Linked DNA regions of Homo sapiens: all the other regions are reported to be linked to region 4. The links are microRNA targets in miRTarBase. Many come from high-throughput screens and were not tested one by one. Region 4 holds a microRNA gene; each other region holds the end of a gene's coding sequence.
What was found. The annotated mature microRNA hsa-miR-3152-5p reads AUUGCCUCUGUUCUAACACAAG and lies in region 4 at 2,148-2,169, shown strand. An mRNA with a match to its seed (bases 2 to 7 or 8) in the 3' UTR can be bound and repressed. Matches are read on the target gene's strand: a 7mer-m8 pairs with bases 2 to 8, a 7mer-A1 pairs with bases 2 to 7 and ends in A, and an 8mer does both.

Region 1 (4,224 bases), not on the chromosome of region 4:
TAACCCCATTGCACTGTGTCCCCTCAACTGCAAAAGGCTGAAAGACACACTAAAAGAAAAGAAAACATGTTGCCTTTATGTGTGGTAAAGAATATTGATACTTAGCTGTACTTTGAAATACTTAAATGATTCTCTAAGCCATTCTGATTTTAACCTGTACTTTGTTACTAAAGAGGTAGTAAAATAGGAGGAAAATAATTTCCCAGGCATTACAAGAATTTTTAGAGAGTTACCTATCATTTAGTGTTGCTTAATTTTAATTTGATTATTGTTATGACACATTTTGTTTCTACTGTTTTCCTTTGCTAATTATTTCACTTGACTAAATTATTACATATTTTAAAGTCTCACGTAACTTTTTTCTTTCTTCAGTGCGTACAGTGGGTAGATGAAGCTAAACTAAACCAAATGAGGCGGGAAGGCATTCGTTATGCTAGAATTCAGCTTTGCGACAATGATATCTACTTCATCCCTAGAAATGTCATTCATCAGTTCAAAACAGTTTCGGCGGTGTGCAGCTTAGCCTGGCATATAAGGCTTAAACAGTACCACCCTGTTGTGGAAGCCACTCAAAACACAGAAAGCAATTCTAACATGGACTGTGGTTTAACTGGAAAGCGAGAATTAGAAGTTGACTCCCAATGTGTGAGGATAAAAACTGAATCTGAAGAAGCATGCACAGAGATTCAGCTGTTAACAACTGCTTCATCATCTTTCCCACCTGCATCAGAACTTAATCTACAGCAAGATCAGAAGACTCAGCCTATTCCAGTTTTAAAAGTGGAAAGTAGACTGGACTCTGACCAGCAACACAATCTGCAAGAACATTCAACCACTTCTGTGTGATATGTACATATTCAAACACATTTTTTAACTTTTTTAAATTTTGATGTGAAGTTATAGTTTTATAACTGGCTTAAGTTAAGTTTTATTGGAGAAATCTTGCCTATAATTCTATAAAGAGAAATGACATTCCACAAATGTCAAGCATATCTTTTTTACACAGATTATGCAAAGTTAAGAGTTGTATCTTATCCCGTTAGTACAGTATGTAATAGTGGGTCTGCTGCTACTTTCTGTTTTAAGGTGTGAGGTAACAATTCAATCTCTTCTTCAAATCAAAATGAGAATTCTCTGGAATAACAGATTCTTGTTTGGTAAATTATTCACTTCCCTTAATTTTATCTTGCCTTGTCTCTTGCCATATTTGCTGTTTTTATGGATAAATAAGATTTATGGTTTAGTACTTGTGTCTTTATGGCACAGGTTCAATTTCTACAGTGAAAATGGCATAGGTTGCAGGAAAGAATTTCTGCATCTGGTACATGGGCAAGTAAGTTATTTAGTTCTAACCACAAATAACAAGTAGTTTCCAAGGAAATTTCAGTGGCTCTCTGGTTTCTTAACAAAAGAGAAAGCACAGCACTTTCTGATCCAAACTGTCTTTTTTTTGTATCTGTTATTTAAAGCCCAGTGGATATTTCAATTAAAAAAAAAATCTAAAGATGAATAGTCCTTGGTCATTCATTATCCATGGCTCATTAATCTCTTCTAGAATATATGCTAACTGTTGAAGATATTTTGGGTAAAAGAGATAATGTTGACATGATACTCTATTGTTCTGCTTCCTGGCATCCTCACATTTTGTGGGGATAATTTTGCTTCCTAAACTGATCACAACTATTAAACTTAGAGAATAATAATAGTCTTTCTGATGAGGCTGCCATATTTTGAGCATCAATCTTATGATAAACTATTCTTGTCACTTGGCATCAACCTCTTCATGATAAATATCTACTACTGAGACACTTCAATTCACAGTTTTAACTGGTGAATACCTGGGTTTATTTACTATTACTCTGTGTTGCTATTTTCTAAGAAAGAATACAGCACTAGACTTCATCCTAGAGTTTCAGGTAGGCTAATGCTTAGTGCCTGAGTATTTAAATTTTCTTTTCAAACAGGCACAGTTCACATTGCTAGTATGGTCCTAACTTTCTGTTATTTTAGAATGTTAACATGATTCACATTATACTTTCTCTTAGTTAATAATACAGTAGGCCTTTTGTTTATTAATGGAAGAGTACTCCCCACACCTAAGACCAGATTCTTATATCTCCCTGGTTACAGTGCAATTTGGAGATTTTTTTTTTTTCCTGGATGGTAAGATTTGAAATATTTACATTAACATAGGCAAAAAAAAAAAAAAATACAAGATGCTGCTTTATTATGTCTGTCACCATGAAAACTTAGCTGCATCTTTTGAAATATCAAATATGAATTTTCTCTAAAATATTCTGAAATAGGTTAAATCTTATATAAATATTACTTTGTGCAATATTGTTGTGTAGTTAAATGCATATTAGCAAAGTATAGAGGTCACTGTGTAAACCGATAGAAAAGTAACCATCAGCAAATACTGCAGTGATTAGTTAGAATCTGTATTATTCCTTATATATATGTATATGTATGTATTCTCTGTTACAAAGGATGAAGACAAATAGGGATACATTTCAATGTAAACCATTTATGAATTGGAAGTGATGTTGGCTTTAGTTATCTTTGTAAATAAGGTAATTAGAATGGTATGAAAGGTAATGTGATTATTGCAGGGGTGTTTTTAAATCTTGGGTATAAATTCTAGGGTAAATTCCAGTTTATCCAGACTAGTTTTTAACGGGACCTGCCTTTGAGGGTGTTTTTTGTTATTTTGTTGGGGAGGGGTTTAATCACAAAGTGTGTGGGTTTGGGTTATTTCTTGTTTTTATTTTTCTGTCCAGAAGAGCTTTACCAGGCTGTGCAAAGTAAAATTCTTCTCAGGCAACATTTGCTTTTAAAAATAATCATGAAGAGAAGGCTGTTAAAGCAAAAATTTTTTTTTTTTAATTTTTTCTTGTCTTCCAAGATCCGATTTCCCCATCTCCCACTTGCCATCCAGCAGATGCCATCTGTCATCCAAGCTGGTCATTGCTAATAAACAAGGAGACTGTCTCCTGACAGCCAGCACTGTGTATTATCACTCAGGAACCAGCGGATCTGCAAAGACCTACAATCAAAAGCAAATCCCCATTTTCCTTTTATAAAACATTCTACCCTCACCTCCAATATAAACACATTAAAAGAGTACAATAAAAATGTTTAAAATCATGTACTAATAAATTCATTGTATGTTAGAATTGCAATAGAATGAAGAGAAACATTTAGCTAGTAACGTGATCTGAAAACTGAATGTCCTATGTGAGTATTAGATTTTAATAGCATGCTTTAAAGACTGATGAGTATAAAAGCAGAAGTTTTGCGTTTTTTACTGCTTTCAAAGCTGTATCCTAGTTTAGTGATACAAATGATTGCAATTTTTCTAAATCATTAAATTATTTGGTTTGGTGGAGTGAGGCATGGAGCAATCTGGCGTCTTCTGATTTGTTAAAGTAGTGATGGCAGTGAAGTTGTAACTGAAATTTAAGCTGATCTTCCTTTTTGGTATATTATCCGTTGTGCCAGCTCTTGAGATTACTTGCACAATGTGGCTATAAGTTTTAATATTTTGTGGAGCAGAGGGATGGTTTTTAAATGTGCTTATGGAAAGGACCCAATAAATGAATATTCCTAACTTAGTAAAGTAGAATAATTTCATGGTATTCATTAAAAAGCATAAAAGTCTTCCTCTTGCCCCAGAAGTAATTCTCTATACCAAGATATGCTAGGAGTAGGATGATGATTCAAAGTGGTAACCCAAATTCATAAAGCAATAATAATAAAAACCTATATAGTATGTTCTCTCCTCCAAAGTTTTAACTCTAAAAATTGGTTCCTAGGTTTAATTGTACCTTTAATTTGCTTATTCAGTACTTAGAATTTGTTTAACTGGTACTTTTATTATTTTTTAGTGAAAGACTTTTGAAAAGTGCCCTTTCCCCTTAAGAGACAGTTGGAATACCAGTTGACTAATATTACAAGCTCTTGTAGGGGGAAAAAGGAGCTTATTAAAGTTGTTTACTAAACTTTAGGAAAAGATGTCTTGCATCAGTCTTACTAGGCATAAAAGTCACACTTAATGACTGGAAAAAACTTGCTTATTGCCTTTCCCTATATAAATATTAATTGTCTAGAATGAAAGCTAATATAGGAACAAGACTCCCAAATCCATGAAAACGCTTAGTGAATATATTCTTAATCATTAATAAATTAGCCCATTATATTTTCATCTGTATTTGCCATAAAAAA
Region 2 (4,224 bases), not on the chromosome of region 4:
GTTTGCAGGCCACTTCTGCTTTTTCATTTACTTGTCTCTGCTGTAGTCTCCAGATGGTCAGAGTTGAAGGTTTTTGGGGAAGTGGAGGGGGTGGGAGTGAGGGGCATAGGAATAGTTCCTGACACTGTGGGAGAGTGAAGTTCACTCCCCTCCTACAAGAAATGTGTTCATAGCCTCTGGGTGCCCACATCATTATGATTAATTATGATGAGCTCAGATGAGATCGTGCCTCCTCCCAGCCAACTGTGTTCCCTATTCCTTAGTATCCGTCAGAAAAGTTCCATGAGTCTCTTCTCTTGCCTGGTGTACTGTAGCACCTCTCCAGTGACCACTAAACCCGCCTATTCAAAACCCAGCTTTTAAGATCTTTCCGTCCTTCAGTATCAATTATATATTTTATTGGCCCTAATTAAACTTTCCCTTTGATCCAGTGTTAAACTACATTGTGAGCCCTTTTTTTTTTTTTCAGACAGGGTCTTGCTCTGTCGCCTGGGCTGGAGTGCCGTGGTGCGACCACAGCTCACTGCAGCCTTGGCTTTGTGAGCTCAAGCAGTCCTCCCCCCTCAGCCTCCTGAAGTAGCTGGGACTACAGGCATGCACCACCACACCTGGCTAACTTTTTATTTTTATTTTGGTAGAGACAGAGTGATGCTATGTCGTCCAGACTGTCTTGAACTTCTGGCCTCAAGCCATCCACCGGCCTTGGCCTCTCAAAGTGCTGGGATTATGGGCATGAGCCACCACACCTGGCCTAGTCATGAGATTTTCTTTGACCTACTGCTGAGCCTCCTTTCCCTGAAGGTTGTGATGTTGGGAGGGGTGAGTCCATCCTCCCTTTCATCTTGCCTCCACCATCGGGACTTGTTTAACCTTCACACTGTTACTTCCCTTTTCTAGAACTCACGTGCTGTGTGTCAGACTGAGCTTTCCCTGATTCATTCTACAATCCAAGACTTGCTGCACTGTCCTGCTGATGTTCACAGCCGTGCCTGGGAAGAAGGCAGCCCCACTCCCAGTACATTTCAGTGGGAGACCTCTGCGTGCATCCATGGAGACGCAATGGGGCGGGGAAGGAACTGTGGGAGTGCACGTTCCAAATCCTGTGTCTCCACGTGTGGATCAGCAGCACCTCGCTTTCTTGTCAGAGACCTCGCTGTTACGGAGCGAGACCTGCTGAGAATTGAGGGGCTGAGGGAACCCCTCCACCTCCTCCCTTCTGCAGCGCCCTGCGCCCCACCCAGCAACAGCGGCCACTTGGCAGTGGGGCTGCTGCAAGCTCAGAGCCGCTGCCACCCTGCATGTGTCCGCTCAGCTCGGTCTTATGCTGTATAGTTACTAAATATGTACAGGAGGGCCATGGCATCTTTCTGAATGGATTTTTCTTAAGAAATGCGCCAGTGTTTATGAGGTTCAAGGTATTTCCCTGTCCTTGCTGTTACCGTCACTCAGCTTTTTCTCGATAGGCTTCATCCTTGTTTTTTTGAAATGGGGGAATTTGCTGTTTACCCTCTGCATTCCTATATGTGACCCTCCCTCCTACTCCTCCAAGGAACAGAATTACCGAGGTTCTGACAAAAGATAAGCCTGTAAACTCATCATCTGTGTTTTGTGGTTGGAGAGAAACTGGTGTTCTGCCCGGCTCTGCTTGGTCACAGACAGCTCCAGCAAGAGCAGTTGTTAAAAGTGCCAAGCGTGTGTATCACTGTGACAAGCCGTTTGCTTACTGCCCTGTTCCCTTGCAGCCAAACCAGCTGATGAAGAACTGCTGCCAGGTGGGTCCTACAGCAGGTCACAAATGACCTAGTTTCATTTTAAGCAGACAGACTCTGTTTGGCCTAGAGGTGTGGAGTGAGAGAACTGTGTTTGTGGGTATGAGTCTGTGTGGCCAACCCCATGACCCCCACCCCTCCAGCCCAACATCTTGTGAGCACATGTGACCTAGGCCCCGGGGGACCTGCCTGCTCCTTTGGCTTGGGCTCTTCGTGTTTCCCACCTGCCCTCGGCACGAGCCCTTGGTGGCATCACAGTTGGCCACTCAGCTGTGCTGAGTAGCTGTGCTACTTGTGCTGGCAGCTGCAAGGATAGGAATAGCTCAGCGCCCGATGAGCTCCCTGAGCAGATGTGAGGCTGGCAACTCCCCTGCCCTCTGTTTGCAGGCACAGGGTCACAGTCCCAAGAAAGACAACTGGAGTCTGATCTCCCAGCCATCTCTGGGGTTACTAGGAGGCAGCTGGATGGCAGATACGAGAGGCCCAAATAGCCAAGCTGTTGCAAGACAGAGTGGCTACAATTGAATTGACACCCTGGGAAGCACGAGGTAACTTGGTAAGGATAATGATGCTGTAGATGTCTGTGTCCTCGGAGGCTGAGCTCCGCTTGGCAGAGAGAGCGTGCTGTGTGAGGTGGAGGGCGGTTTTGCAGACATCTCAGCTTCTTTTCTGAGGAGGAGTTGGTTCTCATCTTAGGCTTCTGCAAGGGCGAGCATGGGATGTCTCCACCACCACCCACTCTTGGAGCTGTGCTGGGTCTTGGCTTGGGGCGCTGAGGGTGGGGCCTGTGTCAGAAGCATTTGGTGAGAGGGGTGGAGGTGGCAGGCAGGGGTTCTCCTCAGGGTTCCCACTGAGGGGTCCCTTCAGCAAAGACCTGGGAGGAGGTGCCGCATCACGTGGATGTTTCTTCCCTAAAGAAAAAGACACAGGAAAGCTGTCTGTCTGTACCCTGCTCTGGATTTATTGTCGTACTTGGACCCAGAAGGGGAAATGATTCCCTCACCCTTTCACTTTCTCTCTGAACCCCTACTAAGTGGTGACTGCAGATTCTGGAAACAATTAGCTGCCCGTGACTCAGCTGCCAGCTTCATTTTCTCTGCCTTTTGGGAGAGGCCCTCTCACCCAGGCCCAAGAGATTTGGAGACAGGAGTCAGGCCAGGTCTGAAGCAGGAGAAGGGAGGCCCCTCCTATCTACCCAGTTGACATTTGGCTTTGGGAAAAGCGCAGCTTGTTCGAGCCACGTGTGCCAAGCAGGCTTTTCCTTCCTCTTGTAAGTAAAGCTCGTGGTTCTGTAGTCCAGTCATCCTAGGAGGGTGATGTTGACTGAGACTTCACGCTCTCCCTTTGTCTCTGGAAACTGCCCCCTCGTTCTGACAGAATCCCCCAGGCAATGGAGGAAGGGTGCCGAGGCGCCTCTAGTCTGTGCCTTTGCCGTTGGAAGCATTTGGTGCTGAGAGGGTTTCCCAGCCACCCGCTCCCTTTCTGGGGCCATGGTGTCCCTGCTGTGTGTCAGTGGCATGTCACTGTGGTTCAGTGAGCACATGGGTGGACGTGCAGAGACTGTCTGCGCAGCCCCCAGCAGACATGCCCCTGGGGTGAGGACACAGGCTCTGCAGGCTATCTCCCCCTCTGGCTCAGTCATCGCCTGCCCACCCTTCACTTCTTAAAGGTGCGCAAGAGAGGAGGGCCGACTGGAGGGTGTCGCCGGAAGGTTTCAGCCTGCCCTTCACAATTCCCCTTGTGCACAGCCCAGTTTCCATCTCTCAGGGCCCACCCAGGAAAATGGATTTCAAGTGGGGGTTTTCATCCAGAGATTTGTTTAACACAAAACAAGAAAAGCTGAGAGGCAAAACAGGGGAGTGAGGGGCAACCCAGAGGTGGGGAACAACAACAGCAAGCCGCCCCCATCCTGAGACTGGCTGGGCACCAGGGGAGGACGCGTCACCAGAGCCTGGGGCCAAGGCCACTGGGGGACCTGCCACACTGTGGACCTGTCTGGTGGGGGCTGGAGCCTCGAGAAGCCATGATTCTTGTCAGAAACATTTCCCCAGGCAGAGAGAGGGGGCCCCAGCCTCTCCCCTCCTCTTGGCCTCCAGAGTCCTGCAGGTGCCTCACAGTAGTGAAACCCAGTTGGAAGCAGCTGCCCTGGGAGCCTGGGACAGGCGACCCACCGGGTCAGTCCCCTGCCACTCAGAGCAGAGCAGGGGGCTGAGGGCAAGCAGGTGGGGCTGTGCGTGGCCTCAGTGCACTCGGTGTCATGTCTGAGCCTGGTGTTTATGCCCCACTGCTGTCCTAAGTCCCTGGCGAGGGGAGGTGGAGGAGCTGCCCCGTGGGTGTTTGGAGATTCTGTTTTACTCTGCCTAGAGAGGAAACGGCTTTGGGGAGGGAGGGGGAAGCCTTTATTCTTTACTGTTGTCCCTGTTTTCCTTTGGGGGAATTTACTCAGTTAGCAGCC
Region 3 (4,224 bases), not on the chromosome of region 4:
GGGCAGATTCCAGCCTTTGGGCTGGGGGCCTCTCTCCTGGGTCAGGGATGTCTGTTGACTCTGCCAGAGCTGCACTTCTCTCCACACAGACCCTCCCTGCCCCATCCCCCACATCTCCCCCAGGTGGAATTCTCAAGACTTCCAAGGAGGCCGATGCGGAGTCCCTGCAGGCTGCCTGGTACCCACGGACCTCCCTGCCCACTCCGCTGCGAGCCCATGACATCCTGCACCTGGTTGAACTAGCCGCCCAGTATCGCCAGCAAGCCAGGCACCCTCTCATTCTGCCCCAAGAGCTACCCTGTGATCTGGTCTGCCAGCGGCTCGTGGCTACCTTTACCAGCGCCCAGACAGTGTGGGTGTTAGTGGGCACAGTGGGGATGCCTCACTTGCCTGTCACTGCCTGTGGCCTCGACCCTATGGAGCAGAGGGGTGGCATGAAGATGGCCGTCCTGCGGCTGCTGCAGGAGTGTCTGACCCTGCACCACTTGGTGGTGGAGATCAAGGGGTTGCTTGGACTGCAGCACCTGGGCCGAGATCACAGTGATGGCATCTGTTTGAATGTGCTGGTGACCGTGGCTTTTCGGAGCCCAGGGATCCAGGATGAACCCCCAAAAGTTCGGGGTGAGAACTTCTCTTGGTGGAAGGTGATGGAGGAAGACCTGCAAAGCCAGCTCCTCCAGCGGCTTCAGGGATCCTCTGTTGTCCCAGTGAACAGATAGAGAGGTGGGGGAGGTGACAGGGAGCTAGGCAGCCGTGCTCCCTCCAGTGCGGACTTGTCTCCCTCTGAGGGAGGCAAGAGGCTGGCGATCAGGGATCTTGTTGCATTGGGAGCAGGGGCGGCTCTCCTGGTCCCCAGGAGAGATGCTTTGAGGAGCATTCCTCTAGATTGCACAAGGGACAGTGCCTTTAACCAAGCGAGGAGTCCAAAGCTCAGGACCTGACTACCCTGAGGGCACGCTGACGCCTCTTCCCAGGGGGATGGGGAGCTTTCTGCACCCCCAGTGGCATCTCCTCATCACGTTCTGTGCCGTCCTTGGGAAAGGCCTGCATTCTGATCCTTCCAGGCCCTTCGAGCATGGAGGGGCACTGGGGAAGGTCCCCCGAGGGAGGAGCACGTTGCTGAGTAAAGAGGTGTTACTCACCTTGCCTCCCTGCCTACACGTCTCTGTGGGGAGAAAGTGATGGGGACTACTGTCCAGGAGCTGCTGCTCCCCTCGTGTTACCCACAGGCACCCATGCCTTTCCCAGTGCACTGACAGTGCGGGCCAGTCTGCTGTCCAGCACGGCCCCTGGGGCTCCCTCCAGTTGGCCTGCTGGCCCGGGATGTGACTCTGAGGGGACCCATCCCTAATGAAACACAGCTCTGAGCCCTCCAAGGGTTGGGCAGTGGGCGGCCCCAGAGGAACTTCAAGTGGGACAGGAGCTGCAGGTGCTGCCTCTGCTCTCTCCTTGAGCCTCCCTGGCGCAGACCACTCCCCCTGGCTCTCCTGCCTCTGCCTTTTCACAACTTCAGCCCATGCCAGACCAAACCTTTTCTTCATTTCCCCTCAGCCTCGCTGAATCATGGTAGGATTTTTTTTTTTTTTTTTTTTTTTTTTTGCTAAGTGGCCGGGCACAGTGGCTCACACCTGTAATCCCAACACTTTGGTAGGCTGACACAGGTGGATCACTTGAGGTCAGGGAGTTCGAGACCAGCCTGGCCAACATGGCAAAACCCCATCTCTACTAAAAATACAAAAAACTAGCCGGGCATGTTGGCAGATGCCTGTAATCTCAGATACTTAGGAGGCTGAGGCAGGAGAATCGCTTGAACCCCGGAGGCAAAGGTTGCAGTGAGCCGAGCTCCAGCCTGGGTGATAGACTTCGTCTGAAAAAAAAAAAAAAAAAAAAAGAACTTTGGCCAGGCACGGTGGCTCACACCTTTAACCCCAGTGCTTTGGGAGGCTGAGGCAGGAGGATCGCTTGAAGGCCAGAGTTTGAAGCCAGCCTGGGCAACATAGTGAGACCCTGTGTCTACAGGAAAAAAAAAAGGCCAGGCAAGGTGGTGCACACCTGTAAATCCCAGCTATTCAGGAGGCTGAGGCAGGAGGATGGCTTGAGCCCGGGAGGTTGAGGCTGCAGTGAGCCATGCTCAGGCCACTGCACTCCAGTCTGGGTGAGACAGCAAGACCCTCTCTCAAAAGAAAAAAGAAAAGAAAGAGGAAAAAAAGAACTTTACTGAAATTTAAGCAAAATCAAAGGAAATGAACAAATAAAATATATCAAGTGTTCTACGGTAGAGATTTCTGATTCTGAGCAAGGAAACACTAGCACAGGCTCCCCTTCTGAGGGCCAAGATGACCTCCAAGGCCCCTTTCCCAGCCCCCTCCCTGCCTCTCTTGGCTGCCCTCCTTTCTGGGCCCTGGAGGGTGGTAGGAATCCTTGTACCCTCTGAGGACAAATACCTCACAAATGATGGAACCAAACCCCTTTGTTTCAGTTCACTTCTCTCAGTGTCTAAGGGACCCACTGGCCCATATCCAGTCAGCCGGGCAATGACATTTGGCTATTTGCCCCCATTATTTAGCCTAGTAGTTTCCAACCCTGGGCACACGTTAGGGTCACCTGGGTTTTTTTTTTTTTCCCTCAAACAGGGTCTTGCTCTGTCACCCAGGCTGGAGTGGAGTGGTGTGATCCTGGCTCACTGCAGCCTTGACCTCCCAGGCTCAAGTGACAAGTGATTCTCCTGCCTCAGCCTCCCAAGTAGCTGGAACCACAGGCGCATTTTTAAGCTTTTAGTAGAGATGGGGTTCTCACTATGTTGCCAAGGCTGGTCTTGAACTTCTGTCCTCAAGTGATCCTCCCGCCTCAGCCTCCCAAGGTACTAGGATTATAGGCGTGAGCCACCATGCACAACCACCTGGAGAGCTTGAACTCTGGGTGTACCCCCAGCAACAATAATTTAACTGGTGATGGGGCACTGGGCATTGGGATTTTAAAAAGCCACCCAGTGATCAACACGAGTTGAGAGCCAACATCTGGCTCCTTTTCCTCCACGTTCTCAGCCTGCCCTCCCGCAGTCTCTTGGGGACCCCCCTCAGAGGATCCCCCACCCCTCCACACACATCTGAGGACAAAGGGTTTATTTATGTGTTAACTTTTCTTTTTCCCTGAGAACACACCTGTGAAATTTTTTTTTTTTTTTTTTAGACAGGGTCTTACTCTATTGCCCAGGCTGGAGTGCAGTGGTGCAATCGGCTCACTGCAGCCTTGAACTTAAAGACAAGGTTTTAAATATCAGGCCTACTTTATGACTAAAACAGGCATACAACACGCAGCATAAACACACCCAAATGAGACTTGCACACAGATGCTCCCACGTGGTCCATTCCCTCATGGTGTCTCCGGGGTGGGCAGACTCTCCGCTGCAGGTCAGCCCAGCAGAAGTGGCACTGCTCCGCCAAGAGTCTGGCTCCTGGCAGGCGCTGAGGATCAGCAGATCTGCACTGCCAGAGCCTGTCTGTTTACCGCCCACCCCACCTCCCTGCTGCAGCGCTAGAAAAAGAATTTGTCTTCCTTGGGGAGGAAGATGGGCCCGAATTAGCAGTGGAGTCCTGGGCAGAAGGTGGGGAAACTTGGCCAAGAACAGAGCCACGGTGTCCACGCAATCACACCATTTATTGCTGTGCTGTCCGGGGAAGACACCGTGCAAATGCCAAAGTGCACTGAGGAGAGGGGAGGGTCTGTGACTCCCAAACCCTCGAATATTTTATGAATCTAAGAGTCCAGACGCAGTTCATCCACGGAGATCTGCGCCCCGTCCACACCAACACCCACGTTTGTGCACCCACATGTGCACGGTGCTCTTCAGAGCGGCGAGGTCCTCCCCCGCGGGGAGGAATGTGGGAGAGGCAGAGGTCACTGAGTTTCCTCCTGTTTCGTGTCACCTCTTGGCAACCTGTGCCTGGCTTCTAGAAGCGGCATGGGCAAGAAAAGGAAGCAAAAGAGGCTCTGGCCTGCTCCTCCTTGCCCAGGAGCAAAGCCAGCAACTGTGTAGTCCCGCTGTGAGGTAATGCCTGGCGCCGCCCGTGTATTCCTGCAGGTCAAGACAGATTCGGGCCGGGTGGGGTGGCAGCCCAGCCACGGAGGGCATGCAGGGAGAACACCACCAGGACTGGCTGCCTGGGCCGCAGCCACTTCCCGCCAGGCTCAGGGGCCTGGAGTCAGGGGGCGTCCTTCCCTTAT
Region 4 (4,224 bases):
GATGATATTGCATTATCAATTTAAAAACATAATTGACACTTTTATCAGAATTGGAAACGTGCAGAAAATTTTCCCTGGTTCATATTAAGAGGTCTCTTAATTATATCTTCTGCTCATTAAGGCAGAGGCGATTCAGCCTGACCCTTCTAACTGTTTCACTTGTATAGAAAAAGGAGGCAAAGGAAATTTTAAGAGGAGTTTGGAACCATTTCAAACAATTTCCTCAATGTTCTGCTTTATTGTATTTCAGTATAATGAAGTACTGTACCCCCAGTACAATGTACTCTACTTCTTCTGTACTTGTACTGAGTAATCAAGTGACTCCTGGGATGATAGGTACTATCAAACGAAAATACTGTATTTAAACATTGCTAAACTGTCAGTTCAACTTTAGACGCTCCCATTCAATGACCAGGAACTTGTGGATCATATAAAGGTAGGTTTATTAAACATGCTAAGCAGGAGAGAGCAGCACCTTGACAGAGACTCTATCGTATCTCAAGTGGGGAAATTTAAGGAAGGCTACGTGTAGAGTTTGGGGGCAGTTGTTAGTTATAGAGTTGTTTTAGGGCAGAAGTTAGTAAGTGAGGCCTAGGCAGATATTGGTAGAATTTGTAAATTAGGCAAGTGGAAGTCTTATCTTTGGAATGTGAGTTCATTAAGACAATATTAAATCAGTTTCTCTGTGCTCTAGAACATATGGTCTGAAAGGAGCTTGTGTTAAACATTTAAAGTTGTTTGTGGCCAGTTGCGGTGGCTCATGCCTATAATCCCAGCACTTTGAGAGGCCAAGGCAGGTGGATCACCTGAGGTCAGGAGTTCGAGACCAGCCTGGCCAACATGGCAAAACCCTGTCTCTACTAAAAATATAAAAAAATGAGCTGGGTGTGGGGGCACATGCCTGTAATCCCAACTGCTCAGAAGGCTGAGGTAGGAGAACTGCTTGAACCCAGGAGGCGGAGGTTGCAGTGAGCCGAGATCACGCCACTACACTCCACCCGGGGAGACAGAGCGAGACTCCTTGTCAAAAAAAAAAAAAATAAAGTTAATTTGTATTGTATGTCATGATTTGACACAATTTACCTGTGTTGTAATTCATAATATAGTTTTGCTGGTTGTAGGTAGTTTTTGTTTTATTTTACAAAATAAACGTGTAAACAGCCTGTATAGCACACATATTTATTTATTTATGGATCTTAAAAAATTTAAACTGCATCCTATTATCTAAAAAATTAATAATTGGTAAATTTTATTCATACTCTTTTCAGACAATATTCAAAATGTTAAGCCTTGCTGGGTGCCTGTGTATCTGTACCTATGTTATATACATTATTCTTTTCCTCTGCTACTATGGTTTATTCACTCTGAGAACACATAATACTAACAGTAAAATGTCTTTGACATTTTATATTGTATTTTGAACAATTTCATGTTCATCCTAAATAAATATTTGTTTCTACCCCACATTGCCTAGAAAGAATTTGTGCTCCCTCAACTACCAGAGCGTTATATGCTCTTTAGTAGTATCACTAATGTTTTGGAAAAGAGTCAAAATTTTCAGTGCTGTTTTAGAATGCTTATTTAAAGGTAAAGAGATTTTTCAGAGAAAGAAACCTTATATAAGAGAACTCTCACAATGATAATGTAGTAACAGGGAACTGCTGAAGGCTACATGGAAATCCTTTATTTAAAACAAAAAATTAGAATAAAAGCCTTTCTACAGCTGGAGAGTCGACGACAGTCTTCCATGGTAAATTTTAATCTGAAGGCTTGTAGAATAAGATAAACCTATCAAAAAGCCCTTCCAAGGGATAGGCAATATTTGCCTTTTTAAAATTAAATCTTACCTGCTTTTACTGAGATTTATTATTCATTAGATAATGGCCATTGTTAGCCATAGTTTTACATTTTAAATTGCCCTTTATGAAACTTACATCAAAAAGATTCTTATTTTCCACTGATCTCTAACAATATAATTTACAATTCAAATTGAGAGAATCTCCTCATACTCCATCCCTTTGCCTTCTGTGGCCTCATTAAATAATCATAGTAATAGCTACCATCTACTCAGTATATTCCTTGTGCATATATTTGGCCAGCATGAGTTCGTGAACTTCTCACAACAACCTTGAGAGCTGTGCAGAGTTATTGCCTCTGTTCTAACACAAGACTAGGCTTCCCTGTGTTAGAATAGGGGCAATAACTCTGCACTGCATTGCAGCCACCCACCCATCTAAGGAGGAAGTCCATGCTCTTTCCATTCTGCCATGCTGCCTTAAGCCAAAGCAATTCATATATAAATGGTTTCATATTTTTTGTTCCCCATGTTTAATTCTAGATACTATGCAACCTAAGTCCTAGACAAAAAATTACAACTCCACAAAAACTTTTTGAATGAAATTTTTATAACTTTTTACTGCTAGTTATTCAAATAAACAATTGTCATAGCTCTCAATATCAGAACTGAAAGAGACAAATAATTTCAACTAATCCTCTGACTTTACTAGGTTCTACTTATGAGGAAGTCAAAATGATAGTACAGTGTGGAAGAATTCATGAACCAATAGACAACTTTCAAAAAATGTATGTCCCACCTAATCAGAATATCTATTTCAAGCCAATTATTTTTCCATTTAAACTCAATCAGAAAATGTATTTTGAGGTGATTGCTTTATCAGATTTCTACATTTTGCAAGCCAAATAATCATATAACCTCTAAGATGATATTATAAGTTCCATCTATCATGACCAGGACATTTGTTTTGCTTTCTAAGACCTAAGCAGACCATATAGCTGCTCTGGTTTCATGTTTGGGGGTATCCTCCTAACCTTTGTATGTCCTTTCTCTCTTTTTTCTCCAGGACTGCCCACCAGAAGCAGGTGATTTCCGAGCTCAGCAATGCTCAGCTCATAATGATGTCAAGCACCATGGCCAGTTTTATGAATGGCTTCCTGTGTCTAATGACCCTGACAACCCATGTTCACTCAAGTGCCAAGCCAAAGGAACAACCCTGGTTGTTGAACTAGCACCTAAGGTCTTAGATGGTACGCGTTGCTATACAGAATCTTTGGATATGTGCATCAGTGGTTTATGCCAAGTAAGTGCTGATTTGTTCTCATTCAACTTGTCCAGAGGGTTTCAATGTCTTTGTGTAAATGGTTTACATAGTCTCACTCTCTGAATCACTCATCTTTACACTTTTTAGAGTTTGTAAATGGTGAAAGATTTGAAAATTAAGGTATGATTTCAGTGAAAAGTACCAAGTGTTGTATTGTGCGAAGGAAAAGTAGACTAGAGTTATTTTTCTTTCCTTGAGTGTCACTTGAATATAAAAGAATAAAAATTTTTGAATAGTGTTTATCAATTATGTACTAGACTTTGAAATTATCCCCTGGATTGGCTATTCCTGAAGTGTGTGTTTGTGTTTGTGTGTGTGTGTGTGTGTGTGTATTTAGAGACTGGATTTTCATTGACTCAGTTTCAGAATAAATCAGGTAAGACCAATTCTAAAATCCCCAAGTAAACTGTAGGAAAACTTGCTACTTTACTATAATTTCCATTGTATTGAAAATTCAGACACACTGTAGAGAAAGTCATGGAAGAGCCAGCTAGGTTGGACTTAAGCCAGTTAAATCTTTAAAACAGGATTACAAAAAGGTTTGATTTCTGGTATCCATCCATTCATCAATGTCTACTCTAGGTAGGGAATTAGTAAGGTGAAAAAGGGTTTGTATGTTTGTCATGTCTTTGCCATCTTTATTTTCAGGTCCACTTTTTGGATTAGGATTACCAGTCTAGTTTTTGGAGCAAGCAGTTGCTATTGTTTTTCTGTGTGCTGTATTTGACTATATGCTTTTATATTTCATGAAGCAGACACAAAATTTTGAGAGTATTTGCCTTTTCCAACATGGTGTCAGCTGAAATTTTCTCTCTTCAGAATGTATAATATCACGGCTAGGAATGTAAGAGAAATATATGTTTTAGTAATTTGTTGTTTCAAATTTATTTTTTTAAAACTTACATCTATATTTGGATGTAAAGGCAAAAACTGTAGTGTAAATGACTATAAGAGATGTGAGATGTCAGGCAAGGTTTTATGCATGCAAGAGGGAAACAAACATAGTCAACCTTCCTAAAGTTTAAAATCATGAGGCAGAGAAACTGATGTCATATAGGAGTTTGTCACTGATGAAACATATCTTAAGGTTTCCTTATATACAAGA
Region 5 (4,224 bases), not on the chromosome of region 4:
TTTTATTTTAGCCATGCCAGAGGCTGTGGTGCTCGTGCGGTTTAATTGGCCATTTTTGTGCCTTCCTTGCCTCTTTGTGCTCATTAAAAAAAATGTCTTGGGCTGGGTGCAATGGCGCACACCTGTAATCCCAGCACTTTGGGAGGCTGAGGCCAGAGGACTACTTGGGCCCAGGAATTCACATCAGCCGGGGAACATAGTTAAGACTTCATCTTTTTAATTTTTATTTTCTTTAATTTTTGAATCAGAGTCTTGCTCTGTCACCCAGGCCGAAGGGCTGTGGTGTGATCTTGGCTCACTGCCACTTCCAACTCCCAGGTTTAAGCAATTCTCATGCCTCAGCCTTCCCAGAGTAGGTGGGACTACAGGTGTCTGTCACCACACCCAGCTATTTTTTGTATTTTTAGTAGAGATGGAGTTTCACCATGTTGGCCAGGCGGGTCTCAAACTCCTGGCCTCAAGTGATCGGTCTGCCTAGGCCTTCCAAAGTGCTGGGATTATAGGCATGAGCCACTGCACCTGGCTGAAAACCCAACTCTTCCAAAAAAACACAAAAGATTAGCCGCATATGGTGGTGCATACCTGTAGTCTCAGCTACTCAGGAGGCTGAGGGAGGAGTGCTTGCTCCCCGGAGGTTGAGGCTTCAGTGAGCCAAGACTGTGCCAATGCGCTCCAGCATGGGCAACAAAGCAAGACCTTGCATCAATGAAAAAAAAAAAAGCTTGTCTTACTAATTTAAAATGCCTTCATACACTCTGAACATAGTTACTTCTGGACACCCTGGGCAACAGTGGTTGCCTCTGGGCATGACATGGTTCCTGAAAGGGGCTAAGGGGAAATGTTCTCTCCCAGTCTGTGGCCTGTATTACCATTTTCCTAGCAATGTTTTTTGGTGATGTCCAATTCACCAATAATTCCTTTTTTTTTTTCCTTTTGAGACGGAGTCTTGCTCTGTCACCCAGGCTGGAGTGCAGTGGTGTGATCTCGGCTCACTGCAACCTCTGCCTCCCAGGTTCAAGCGATTCTCCTGTCTCAGCCTCCTGAGTAGCTGGGACTACAGGTGTGCGCCACCACGCCCGGCTGATTTTTGTATTTTTAGTAGAGACGGGGTTTCCCCATATTGGTCAGGCTGGTCTGGAACTCTTGACCTCAGGTGATCCACCCACCTTGACCTCCCAAAGTGCTGGGACTGCAGGCATGAGCCACCGTGCTCGGCCCCTTTTTTGATTTTATGTAAGAAATCTTTGTCTACCCCAAGTTTGTAGTGTTAATTTCCCATGTTTGCTTCTAGAAGCTTTCTAGTCCTAACTTCCACATTTTGTTGTTTCCAGTTCTAGCTTTCATATTTTTTTTCTTTTTCTTATTTTTTTCTGAGACAGAGTCTCGCTCTGTCGCCCAGGCTGGAGTGCAGTGGCATGATCTCAGCTCACTGCAACCTCCGGCCACCCAGGTTCAAGCAATTCTCTGGCCTCAGCCTCCTGAGTAGCTAGGATTACAGGTGTGTGCCACCACGCCCAGCTAATTTTTGTATTTTTAGTAGAGACAAGGTTTCACCACATTGGTCAGGCTGGTCTCGAACTCCTGACCTCATGATCCACCCACCTTGGCTTCCCAAAGTGCTGGGATTGCAGGCATGAGTCACTATGTGTGGCCTTTTTTTTTTTTAAAGATAGTCTCACTCTATAAAAAGAAAATATGGAAAAATTTAATAGTAAGCATAATTCTATTCAAAATATAACTGGTTAGCTCACAAAAATTGCTCAGAAATATTGCCAGGCACAGTGGCTCACGCCTGTAATCCCAGCACTTTGGGAGGCTAAGGCGGGTGGATCACCTGAGGCCAGGAGTTCGACACCAGTCTGGCCAACAAGGTGAAACCCTGTCTCTACTAAAAATACAAAAATTAGCTGGGCGTGGTGGTGCACGCCTGAGATCCCAGCTACTCGGGAGGCTGAGGCAGGAGAATCACTTGAATCCAGGAGGCAGAGGTTGTAGTGAGCCGAGATCGTGCTACTGCACTGCAGCCTAGGTAACAGAGTGAGCCTCCACATTTCAAAAAACAAGGAAATACCAAACAATAGTATGTACCAACAGTTGGCCCTAAGTGAAGTTGGCCTTTTACATTTATCGCTATCAGTTGAAGCTATTTTCCATGTAGAACTTCTCAGGCACAACAAAACATATATACATTTCTTTCTTTCTTTTTTTTTGTTGGAGACAAGGTCTTGCTCTGTTGTCCAGGCTGGAGTGCAGTGATGCAATCATGGTTCACTGCAGCCTTGACCTCCCGGTCTCAATCGATCCTCCCACCTCAGCCTCCCAAGTAGCTGGGACCACAGGCATGTGCCACCATGCTTGGCTAATTTTTTTTTTTCGGAGTCTTGCTCTGTCACCCAGGATGGAGTGCAGTGGTACAATCTAGGCTCACCGCAACCTCTGCCTCCTGGGTTCAAGTGATTCTCCTGCCTCAGCCTCCCAAGTAGCTGGGATTACAGATGTGGGCCACCACACCTGGCTAATTTTTTTGTATTTTTAGTAGAGACGGGGTTTCACCACATTGGCCAGGCTGGTCTTGAACTCCTGACCTCAGATGATCCGCCCACCTCGGCCTCCCAAAGTGCTGGGATTACAGGGGTGAGCCACCGTGCCCAGCCCTTGGCTAATTTTTAAGTTGTTTTTGGAGAGATGGGGTCTCATATGTTGCCTAGGCAGGTCTTAAACTGCTGGCCTCAAGGAATCCTCTCACCTCAGTCTTTCAAAGTGCCAGGATTACAAGCTTGAGAAACTACACCCAGCCAAAATATAAACATTTCTAGGACAGCTACATCTAAGACAACTTTTAGGGAAGACAACATGTAAAACTCTATATAAAAAGCTTCTGTGACTGTAGGACAGCAGCAAAAGGATAATAAAATGATTTTAAGTCCTTTAATTTATTTTGAATATCAGTAATTACATTTTCAAAATATGATATAATTTAAAGGTATCAGTACCATAAATCTGTATCTTACAGTAGGAAATGTAAGAGTAAACAGCCTATATACACTTTGTACTACTGACACAATTTTATGTATACAACTCTATACAGTATCTACTAATCTCCAGAAAACCCACCTACAATCCATCTGTCTGGACTGTGGGCAAGTGGTTCTTTCTGAGTCAGGGTCTCACTCTGTCACCCAGGTTGCACTGCAGTAGTGCAATCATGGCTCACTGTAGCCTTGACCTCCTGGGCTCAAGTAATCCTCCCATCTTTGCCTCCTGAGTAGCTGGGACTACAGGTACACACCACCATGTCTGGATACATTTTGTATTTTTGGTAGACACCGGGTTTCACCATGTTGCCCAGGCTGGCCTCAAACTCCTGGGCTCAAGTGATCTGCCTGTCTTGGCCTCCCATCGTGCTGGGATTAGAGGCATGAGCGACTGTGCCAGGCTGACTGTGGACAAGTTTTACAAATAAACCAAAATAAAAATATTTTCACTTTTCAGCTGCACATGGTGGAAATGTACATGTATGATGACAAAGTCGGAGATATTTATTACGCTGAAGACATTTAACTTTGTTCCATGCCAGCCATGAGTGACAACGCTAGAGATTCCACTGTGGGAAGAATAAAAATAAGGTTAAAACAATAGGTTTAAATGTTGAAAAAAAATTTTTTTTGAAGACGGAGTCCCACTGTCACCCAGGCTGGAGTGCAATGGTACAATCTCAGCTCACTGCAACCTCTGCCTCCCGGGTTCAAGCAATTTTCCTGCCTCAGCCTGCTGTGTAGCTGGGATTTCAGGCATGTGCCACCATGCCTAGCTCATTTTTGTATTTTTAGCAGAGACAGGGTTTTGCCATGTAGGCCAGGCTGGTCTTCCAACTCCTGACCTTAAGTGATTCACTCAACCTCCCAAAGGGCTGGGATTAGAGGCATGAGCCACCGCGCCAGGCCAGGAGCTTTAAATTCCTAAAAAAATTTTTAAAAAGACTAGATTTTGAAAAGAAATAGTTACAAAAACTACACGATAGTGAAGTGTGACAGAAATCTATTCTGCCATCAACTTTATTTAATAGGAGTTTTAGAAATCTGTTGTAATAAATGGTATACCAGAAAGTAAGATCCTCAGGCTTACACTCACCTCACCGTAATGCTTAAAAAGCAATTCAAAGCATGGGACAACTGCTAAGGGACTTTTCAGTTTTGAAAATGGTGAGAATTTCTAATTCTTCAT
Region 6 (4,224 bases), not on the chromosome of region 4:
CATCTGAGGAATATTTGTACAAAGGTAATTTGGTAATTTAAGTAACACTGTACACTAAAACTTTGGCATCTACATTACATTTAAAGCCAACCAATAGTTGTCAGTTCCTGCAAGCAGCCTACTTCAGTATGAGAGCAGAGGTTTATCAGTGTTATGCCTACAACTTTAATTCATTCATCTAGAGGATTTTCACTGATTTTTATAGAAAGAACCCAAATGATTCTACTTAGTAATACATTTATAATCAAGAAAGAATCTGTTAAGACCTTGAAAGACAGCAGGAAATGCTTTGTCTGTTGCCTGTGGTGGGGTAAGGAACAAAGCACAACTGGTGAAAGATTGGCTGAAAATGAATTTCGTCTACTTTCTATTGACCCTGACAGAAAAAATACTACTTCACTGTATAAACATAAAGACATGCCTGCCAATGCAAAGGTCTATCACTAGGTCTTCTTCCCTTTTAAAAAATATTAGAGCATGCATTCTCAATGGGGGTCAATCACTACCAAGGATTTAAAAAAAAAAAATTGGTTGGGCATGGTGGCTCACGCCTGTAATCCCAGCACTTTGGGAGGCCAAGGCAGGCAGACCACGAGGTCAGGAGTTTGAGACCAGCCTGATCAACGTGGTGAAACCTCTACTAAAAATACAAAAATTAGCCAGGGGTGGTGGTGGCCGCCTGTAATCCCAGCTACTCAGGAGGCTGAAGCAAGAGAATCGCTTGAACCCAGGAGGCAGAGATTGCAGTGAGCTGAGATCATGCCATTGCACTCCAGCCCAGGTAACAGAGTGAGACTGTCTCCAAAACAAAAACAAAAACATTTTACTCTTTTCATGTACAAAGCACAGAAACAGTACATACACAGCGTATCTATGGTAATAAAATTTATGGGGGACTCTATTAGAAAAAAGTCTAGCTGGGCGCGGTGGCTCAAGCCCATAATCCCAGCACTTTGGGAGGCTGAGGCGGGTGGATCACAAGGTCAGGAGATTGAGACCATCCTCGCTAATCCGGTGAAACCTCGTCTCTACTAAAAATACAAAAAAATTAGTCGGGCATGGTGGCGGGCGCCTGTAGTCCCAGCTACTCGGGAGGCTGAGGCAGGAGAATGGCGTGAACCCGGGAGGCGGAACTTGCAGTGAGCCAAGATCGCGCCACTGCACTCCAGCCTGGTGACAGAGCGAGACTCCGTCTCAAAAAAAAAAAAAAAAAAGCCTAAAAAGGCTGGGGGTATGATAATGGAAAAAAGCTTTTGAAAAACTGAATTAGAAGTCCAACCTCTTGGTCACATGCATTTCCCCTAACTAAAATATGCTATTTCAAAATATCCTGTAGCATTTTTGGTATATGGAGGTTTTTTTTTTTAAATAAGAATGGAATAAACATCTATATATAGAATGAAATAACATCTATAACTCACAGAGTAAGGCTAAGAAACTTACAACCAGCTCTAAAAACTCATTTAGTTTCTAAGGAGACAGCCTTAGAAACTGACAGTTAGAAAAAACATTTATCCAATCATAATTAAAAGTACAATTTAACATCTATATTAAGAATTACATACTTGAGGCCATAGGCTGGCACTGGCACCTGAATTCTAAAATTACCACTTAAGATTCAGAATGGAATCTTTTTATATGGAATGGAATCTGCAATCTTTTTATAAAGCATTCCCTTTCTTTACACTATTACTGTCACAAGTGATATCCACTTACTATAATGTTCTACTAAGTAAACACTACAGTGTCATTATGAAGAAACAAACTACGATCAAAGATAATAATGTAGTTCTGGAAGATGACACACTTTTTCACTATACACAGTATAAAATGGCACACTTTGTATGGAAGAAACATGCAATGAATTGGTTGTAGAAATATTAATGTAGTTTTAGCTACACCAGAATTCTGTGTAGGTGGTTTACAGTTTGGGAGTCTAATTATTACTTAATGGTATACAGATACAGTAAAGACATCTGAACACACAACATACAATACCACTAGGTATTAACATGGAATTTAAAAAAAAAAAGACTGATGTATAAAGCCTAAGTGTAAGTATGGACTTTATTTTTTTAAAAAAAAGTCTTTTGAGAACTACAAATTACAAAGTAAAAGCAGATCACTACGTAGAAATCTAGTGAATACATTTTGCCTGTGCATGAAAAACTTTATCAAAGTTACTCATTTTAACAAATTCACCCCATTCACAACAATCAGTTATAATGTTCTTTTTAAGGTTACTATACCTTTATTTCAAATTATATTACATGTTATTCCCTCAAAATGAACTTTTAAATGACAAACTTTTGGCTCATAAGAATGGCACCTTCAAAAGGGGCGATTTCCACTCAGTCTCTGGTGGCATTATTCCAGGCTAGTTTCACCAGTTAAAAACCTTCAAAATGTTCACTTTTAACACAAAGTCTTCCCATAAAAAATGTGGCTACATTTTCCCCCCAATGACTACATACATAGATGGGTAGCAGCAAGAAAAGATGAAAATGAAAAGGCAGCCATTAAAATAAATGGATCAATTGTATACCAAGAAGTATTTGGCTCATGGCAATTAAAAAACGGCAACTAGGGTATGTTAATAGCCAGAGGCTTGAGTCATTACTGAGTATATTAAGAGAACGAAGCCAGTCCAGTATGACCGAGTAGGAATATATAATTGTCATTGCACTTCATTTGTTATAGCAAATACTCTAAGCCAATAGGAAATCTAAGCTATATCTAGATTCCCAATTAGAACATGCTGACCTTTAACATTTTCAACAATTTTTACTGGGTTTAGTACATCAGTCATTTTCTTTACTCAAACTCCATTACGAGTTCTTTCCTATCAATCTAAGTGTATTCTGTGCATAAAATACCTTAAATGTTAAGACTTTTCTAAGGTTCATTTGAAAATGGTTGTATGAAAAGAATACCCATTTGTTTTGCCTGGAAAGATAGAAACTAAATGCAGAAGTTTCTCAAGGGGAAAAAGCTCAACTTTCTTCTTCCCACCACCTCTGCCACATTATGATTTCCTAAACTTTTCAAGTCTGTTCTCCATGGCTTCTCTAAGGATGAAAACCAGAGACCAAACAATTGAGCTTTAGGATATCTGGAGTTAAAAATGCAAAACAAAACAAAACAAAACAAAACAAAAAGTTAACATGCAAGCAATGGTCCACGTACTCAAGATTCATGTTAAATGAATTCGATTATTACATATGGGTTTTTCATTGATGAGCAGGGCTCCGGGCATGCCATATTATCTCACAAATCATTGCCTTTTGAGACTCTGGATACTTTTCCAGTTTAATTTGCAAACAGAATTTTTATAACAAATTATTTTTTAACCAAATCATATCCTTAAAACTGTTTATAGAAAACCCAGGGAATAAAGTGAACTGTTCATTGTGGAAGGCCTTAAATTACATTATTACAGTAGAAAATACAGGAGGTAGAAGATAACTGAAAAGACTAATGCAACATTAGATTCAAATCTATAGCTCCTGTAGCTACTTAAAACATGGTTTTAGAAACTAAACCCAACATTTCCAGCAACCATAGAAACAGTTAAAATAAAATTTGCCATGAAAGCCCTTATATCATGCTTGATACAGGGAGGTAGGAAGATGTAAGAACCAGGACACATGAGACATGACATTTTATCTACAACTCCTGTTTGCTTTACTGAGGGTGTAGTTTCAAAATTCAGTCACCTTCTTCAGCTTCAGATTCAGATTCTAGAAAAGGGGAAAAAAACAGTCAAACATTATGTATCAGAAGGCAAAAGTTCCCATTTATAACTTTGAAGCTTCTTTAAGACAGAGTCTCCCTCTGTCCCACAGGCCGGAATGCAGCAGCACCCTCTTGGCTCACTGCAACCTCTGCCTCCCGGGTTCAAGTGATCCTCCCACTTCAGTTTCCCAAGTAGCTGGAACTACAGGCGCCCACCACCAAAACTGGCTAATTTTTTATTTTTAGTAGAGACTGGGTTTCCCATGTTGTCCAGGCTGGCCTCATACTCCTGGCCTCAAATGACCTGATCGCCTCAGCCTCCCAAAGTGCTAGGATTACAGGCGTGAGCCACCACACCCAGCCTCCATGTAACTTTGAAGCTGTTAACGAATTTTATTAATAACCTATTTACATGAGGCAGATATTCAAAAGCATTCACTTGGAAATCCCAACATTTGGCTGGGTGCAATCACATCTGCAATCCCTGTA
Region 7 (4,224 bases), not on the chromosome of region 4:
ACCTCCCTGTTTTTTTTAGTTAAATGCTTGATCTCTCTAGTCTATAAACTTCATGAAGGCAGGGCCATGTCTGTCTTGTTTATCACTGCTCTTTCAGTGCCTAGCCTATAGTAAGTACTCCACAAACATGTGTAGACTAATGAATACTAAGAAAAGCAATTACTCATAGAACTTAAAATACAGGAGAGGCATTAGTAGATGTTATGTAGACTGTGCTTGGTTGGTGGCAGACCTGGGAAAAGCAGGTCTTGTGATTTTTTAGCCCAGTAGCTTTTGTATCACCCACCCCACCACCTCTGTGCTTCATGGCATGCTAATATTTCCAAAATCTTTTCCTGGAGAAAATACAATTAAATAATGTATTACCCTTTTATCATTCATAATGCAGCTTTCCATACATGTTATGGTTTGAATTTTTCCCCACAACTTCATTTGTTGGAGACTTCATTCCTCAGTGTGGCAGTGTTGGGAGGTGGGGCCTAGTAAGAGGTATCTAGGTCATGGCCTTTCTCATTATTACCTTTCTCTCAGGAATGGGTTAGCTATTGCAGGATTTCAGCCCCCTTTTCTCTCTCACAAGCATGCCCTCTCACCTCTTCTGCTTTTCTGCCATGCTATGAAGCAGCACAAGGCCCTCATCAGATGCAACCACCAGGTCTTGAACTTCCCAGCCTCCAGAACCATGAGCTAAATAAAGCTCTTTCCTTTATAAATTATCCAGACCCAGGCATTTTGTTATAGCAGCAGAAAACAAACTAAATACACTACTACTATTCTAATTCATTAGTGGCAGGGGGATAAATAAAAATAGGACAATAATTTATATTTTTTATATGAAGATTCATCTGAAGAAGGATATAATTAATTTGATATTTGGTGCTCTGCTTTCCTGGGACTTTGGCTAAAGAATGCTGTTTGCATAGCCAAAACTTTCTTCCTTTCACAACTGCTGTGTTTCCTGATAATATCAACCTTTCCTTTTGTTCAAGTAAAATATGCACAAAATCTTCTCAGTAAAATTCCAGAATCTCATCTGTCTGCTATTTAATGTCCCACATGGTATACTTTAAAATGTTTTTTTCTGTTATCCTTCCTTATCAGTAGAAAAGAAGAAAGACACAGATTAGTTAGGATGTGAACATTAGCAACATAACACCACACATTCATGTTTTGGTAATGTGTTAACTAGAAACTGTTTTTGCAATTCTAAAAAGCTTTCTTCACTCAAGGGAAGAAAGTGCCTATCATTCATCATCACATTCTTGAGAATGTTTTTCTGAGCTGTAGATACGGACTTCTGCACATCACCAGAGTGTTTTCAAGTATGCTGGCTGTTTGCTGTTCATGTCTGACGCTAACCCTGGACCCATTCCTTTGAGGCCTCCCTGGACCCATTCCTTTGAGGCCTCTCTCTGTGTATGTTCCACTTTTCAGAAGCTAGTGGTTTTAGTTGGACCCTTTTAAGTTAAGGTTCTCACCCAAGAACTGGCCAGCAAACCATCAGGAGCTGAGAGCTTTGGGAACTGGTCTTTCATTCTCTCTCAATGTCTCCCTCCTTATTGGGAGCTCTCATTGCCCCCTTGGCTTTATGGCTTCTATTTCTATCCATCTTTTCAGCTTCAGCTTTTAGTACTAACCAGTTTTTCCTCTGATAGTTCACAATCCAAATTCCCATGGAAGAAATCTGGTTAACTCATCTCAATTCTCCATGGCCAAGTTGTGTTGAAGGTCATTGTCAGCCCATGAATTGGCTGATGCCAACCCCGGTGCTGAGGCCAGGATGACTGGCTGGGTATGAGTGGGGGTGCTGGGGTAACCTACAAAACCTAATAGCACCTAACATACAACAAAAGAGAGAATGAGGGCAACTTCTTAAGGAAATCAGAGTAGACGTCTTTTATATTGTGGGTAGGATTTCTTTAAAACTTTAACATTCATCTGAATAGTCTATTCTTTTATTCATTAGTTTTAGCGCTATATTAACTATATGATATGAATTTAATGTTATACTTTCATTATTGCTTCTTGATAATATAGTATCCAAAAAAGAGTCTAGACCTATTTCACAGAGGAGGAACCCAGAGATGGTATGTAACTATCCTAAAGTCATGGGGTTATAGAAAGGCAGAGAATGAGAAGCAGATATCCCAATTCCCAGTCAAAAAAGCGGATATCCCAAATTCCCAGCACTAACATGAACTGGATTAAAGAACCTAGATAATATTCCCAATAATTAGGAAATTAGTTTGTTACCAAAGGGATTTCCTTCTTTTCTCATCTAAGAGGATATGCCAAAGAGAAATGAACATGTGAAGAGTTCTAATATGTAACTACTGTTATAAAACATTTAAAATGTAAAATTGGCACCTTTTCAAAACTTACACATTAAGAAATCATTTTAAAGTTTATTCAAATGACAGAATCTTATCATGCTTCACATTCTGTTTTTTGAATACTTAAGAAAACTTCTATAAATGTGTAACAAATGTATGTATGTATAAATTAATTATAAATGAGAAACCACCCTTTACAAAAAAAATTTATTTATTCCATCAACTACACCCAAATAATTTCAAAAAGTATATCAAAGAATTATTTCTAAATTGATTTTTTTCTTGCTGTACGTAGCGCTAAGGAAAACCTGTCAGCTCTTAAGCTTTTGTTTGACCTGCTTTGTCAAATGCTTTGTGAAATGATATTCAGAACAGCACCATGTGATGTCAACTTGCATTAATTCTTTCCCAAAGAGAGGTGTTCAGTATTCAAACTGTGTTTATACTGGCACAATCTATTTATGTGTCAGCTTCATTTCTGAAAGTTTACAAGTACCTCTTCCTTTGGAAGACTCTGTTCTTTCTTGCAATTTCTCTTCTAAAACAACCTTTGAAAGGACAATAATAATGTCCTATAAAGCTCCTTTCAGGGAAGTCATTAAGAAAATGATAAATATTTCACAGAATTGAATTAAAATGTTGGCTATATGTCAATGTTAAGTTTTACTATTTTCATCACAGATATATCATGAAAAATTAAAACTTTCATTTATTCATCTAAGGAAAGATTTCTCAAAGAAGTAAATCCATAAACAATATTGTACATGTTTTTATGTAAAAGATAATTTATTAATTTGTTTTCAGCTGTCAAGAACCGAATGCATTTGTTACTAAAATTATAAAATGTCCCTTAATTAGGTTATAGTAATGATTGTGTATATTAGCAAACACCTAAATGTTTTACTGATTGGGTAATGTGGGGTAAATAAAAAAACATTCATTTCAAATTTCTTCATTTAAAAGAACAATGTAAATCATTTATCTATTATTCTGTCTTGCTTAGAAAACACTTAACAGAAAGGTTTCATTAAGATTCTAAATTTAGACTTTGATGATTTTGAAATGAATTCCTGGTTTCCTCTATTCCCCTGGGAGCCAGTTATAATAATTTCAAGGACAGTCATTAGCAACTCTAATTCAGTTGACTGCTGAAGGTCTTTTTTCAAGTTTTGTCCTTTCCACCTTTTTTCTGAAGCCGGTTTCTGGTTGGTTCGGTCAATACCAAAGGTTCTTGTATGATGACTGCTGGGTAATTTTTGCCTAATAGTTCAACTTCCACTTGCTGTCCCACTTCACTTAGTTGTACAGGGACATATGCGAAAGCCAGACTCTTCTGGATGCTGTAGCTATAGCTTCCAGATGTCGTGTTGCCAACCACCTGGAAAACAAGACCCAACAGTCCTCAGCATCTTGGTCACAGCTCTGTGCTCCTCATCTCTGGGTGAAAAAAAACTAAAATACAGATTCAACTTACAAAATGGAAGTTTTATGAAGTGCTGTCTGGGGGGACAACGCCAGAGACACAGGAGGAAAACTTCACATTTTGAGAAGATGAATGAAAGTTTACAAATTATGAAAAGTAATTATCAAGGTACACATCTGTATTACTCTGAAATTTCTCATTTTTAAAATAGTAATACTTGGTTTAGGCCAGGAGTGGTGGCTCGTGCCTGTAATCCCAGCACTTGGGGAGGCTGAGGCAGGCGGATCATTTGAGGTCAGGAGTTCAAGAACAGCCTGGCCAAAATGGTGAAACCCCGTCTCTACTAAAAATACAAAAATTAGCTGGGCATGATGGCGGGCGCCTATACTCTCAGCTAATCAGAAGGCTGAAGCATGAGAATTGCTTGAACCCGGGAGGTGGAGGTTGCAGTGAGCTGAGATCTGGCCA

Region 1: the mRNA of RSBN1 is a reported target of hsa-miR-3152-5p. Seed matches in the 3' UTR shown: 7mer-A1 at 2,192-2,198.
Region 2: miRTarBase lists MTA3 as a target of hsa-miR-3152-5p. Seed matches in the 3' UTR shown: 8mer at 3,613-3,620.
Region 3: the mRNA of NUDT18 is a reported target of hsa-miR-3152-5p. Seed matches in the 3' UTR shown: 7mer-m8 at 790-796.
Region 5: miRTarBase lists TUBGCP5 as a target of hsa-miR-3152-5p. Seed matches in the 3' UTR shown: 8mer at 3,254-3,261.
Region 6: the mRNA of BZW1 is a reported target of hsa-miR-3152-5p. Seed matches in the 3' UTR shown: 7mer-A1 at 2,942-2,948 and 7mer-A1 at 2,151-2,157.
Region 7: miRTarBase lists DMGDH as a target of hsa-miR-3152-5p. The part of its 3' UTR that is shown has no 7-base or 8-base seed match.

Annotation. Positions count from the first base shown.
Region 1 is chr1:113,762,602-113,766,825 of GRCh38, reverse strand. It overlaps RSBN1 (round spermatid basic protein 1), which reads left to right. Exons shown (of 7, transcript NM_018364.5): 7 at 373-4,224. The coding sequence ends at 846. Among named protein-coding and RNA genes, the nearest start is that of PHTF1, 5.2 kb to the right of the region's middle.
Region 2 is chr2:42,752,477-42,756,700 of GRCh38, forward strand. MTA3 (metastasis associated 1 family member 3) reads left to right here. Exons shown (of 17, transcript NM_001330442.2): 17 at 898-4,224. The coding sequence ends at 923. Among named protein-coding and RNA genes, the nearest start is that of OXER1, 9.5 kb to the right of the region's middle. RefSeq lists enhancers at 3,568-4,138, 4,139-4,224.
Region 3 is chr8:22,103,795-22,108,018 of GRCh38, reverse strand. NUDT18 (nudix hydrolase 18) reads left to right here. Exons shown (of 3, transcript NM_024815.4): 3 at 124-1,141. The coding sequence ends at 719. FHIP2B (FHF complex subunit HOOK interacting protein 2B) reads right to left here. Exons shown (of 17, transcript NM_022749.7): 17 at 3,108-4,224. Among named protein-coding and RNA genes, the nearest start is that of NUDT18, 3.5 kb to the left of the region's middle. RefSeq lists enhancers at 1-259, 656-800, a cis regulatory region at 728 and a silencer at 3,575-3,722.
Region 4 is chr9:18,571,169-18,575,392 of GRCh38, forward strand. MIR3152 (microRNA 3152) reads left to right here and starts at 2,138; the gene lies at 2,138-2,211. ADAMTSL1 (ADAMTS like 1) reads left to right here. Exons shown (of 29, transcript NM_001040272.6): 4 at 2,862-3,098.
Region 5 is chr15:22,996,263-23,000,486 of GRCh38, forward strand. It overlaps TUBGCP5 (tubulin gamma complex component 5), which reads right to left. Exons shown (of 23, transcript NM_052903.6): 23 at 2,915-3,604. The coding sequence ends at 3,558. Among named protein-coding and RNA genes, the nearest start is that of CYFIP1, 18 kb to the left of the region's middle.
Region 6 is chr2:200,821,663-200,825,886 of GRCh38, reverse strand. It overlaps BZW1 (basic leucine zipper and W2 domains 1), which reads right to left. Exons shown (of 12, transcript NM_001207067.2): 12 at 1-3,740. The coding sequence ends at 3,709. Among named protein-coding and RNA genes, the nearest start is that of BZW1-AS1, 12 kb to the right of the region's middle.
Region 7 is chr5:78,994,587-78,998,810 of GRCh38, forward strand. It overlaps DMGDH (dimethylglycine dehydrogenase), which reads right to left. Exons shown (of 16, transcript NM_013391.3): 16 at 2,978-3,711. The coding sequence ends at 3,496. Among named protein-coding and RNA genes, the nearest start is that of ARSB, 11 kb to the left of the region's middle. RefSeq lists an enhancer at 3,301-4,224.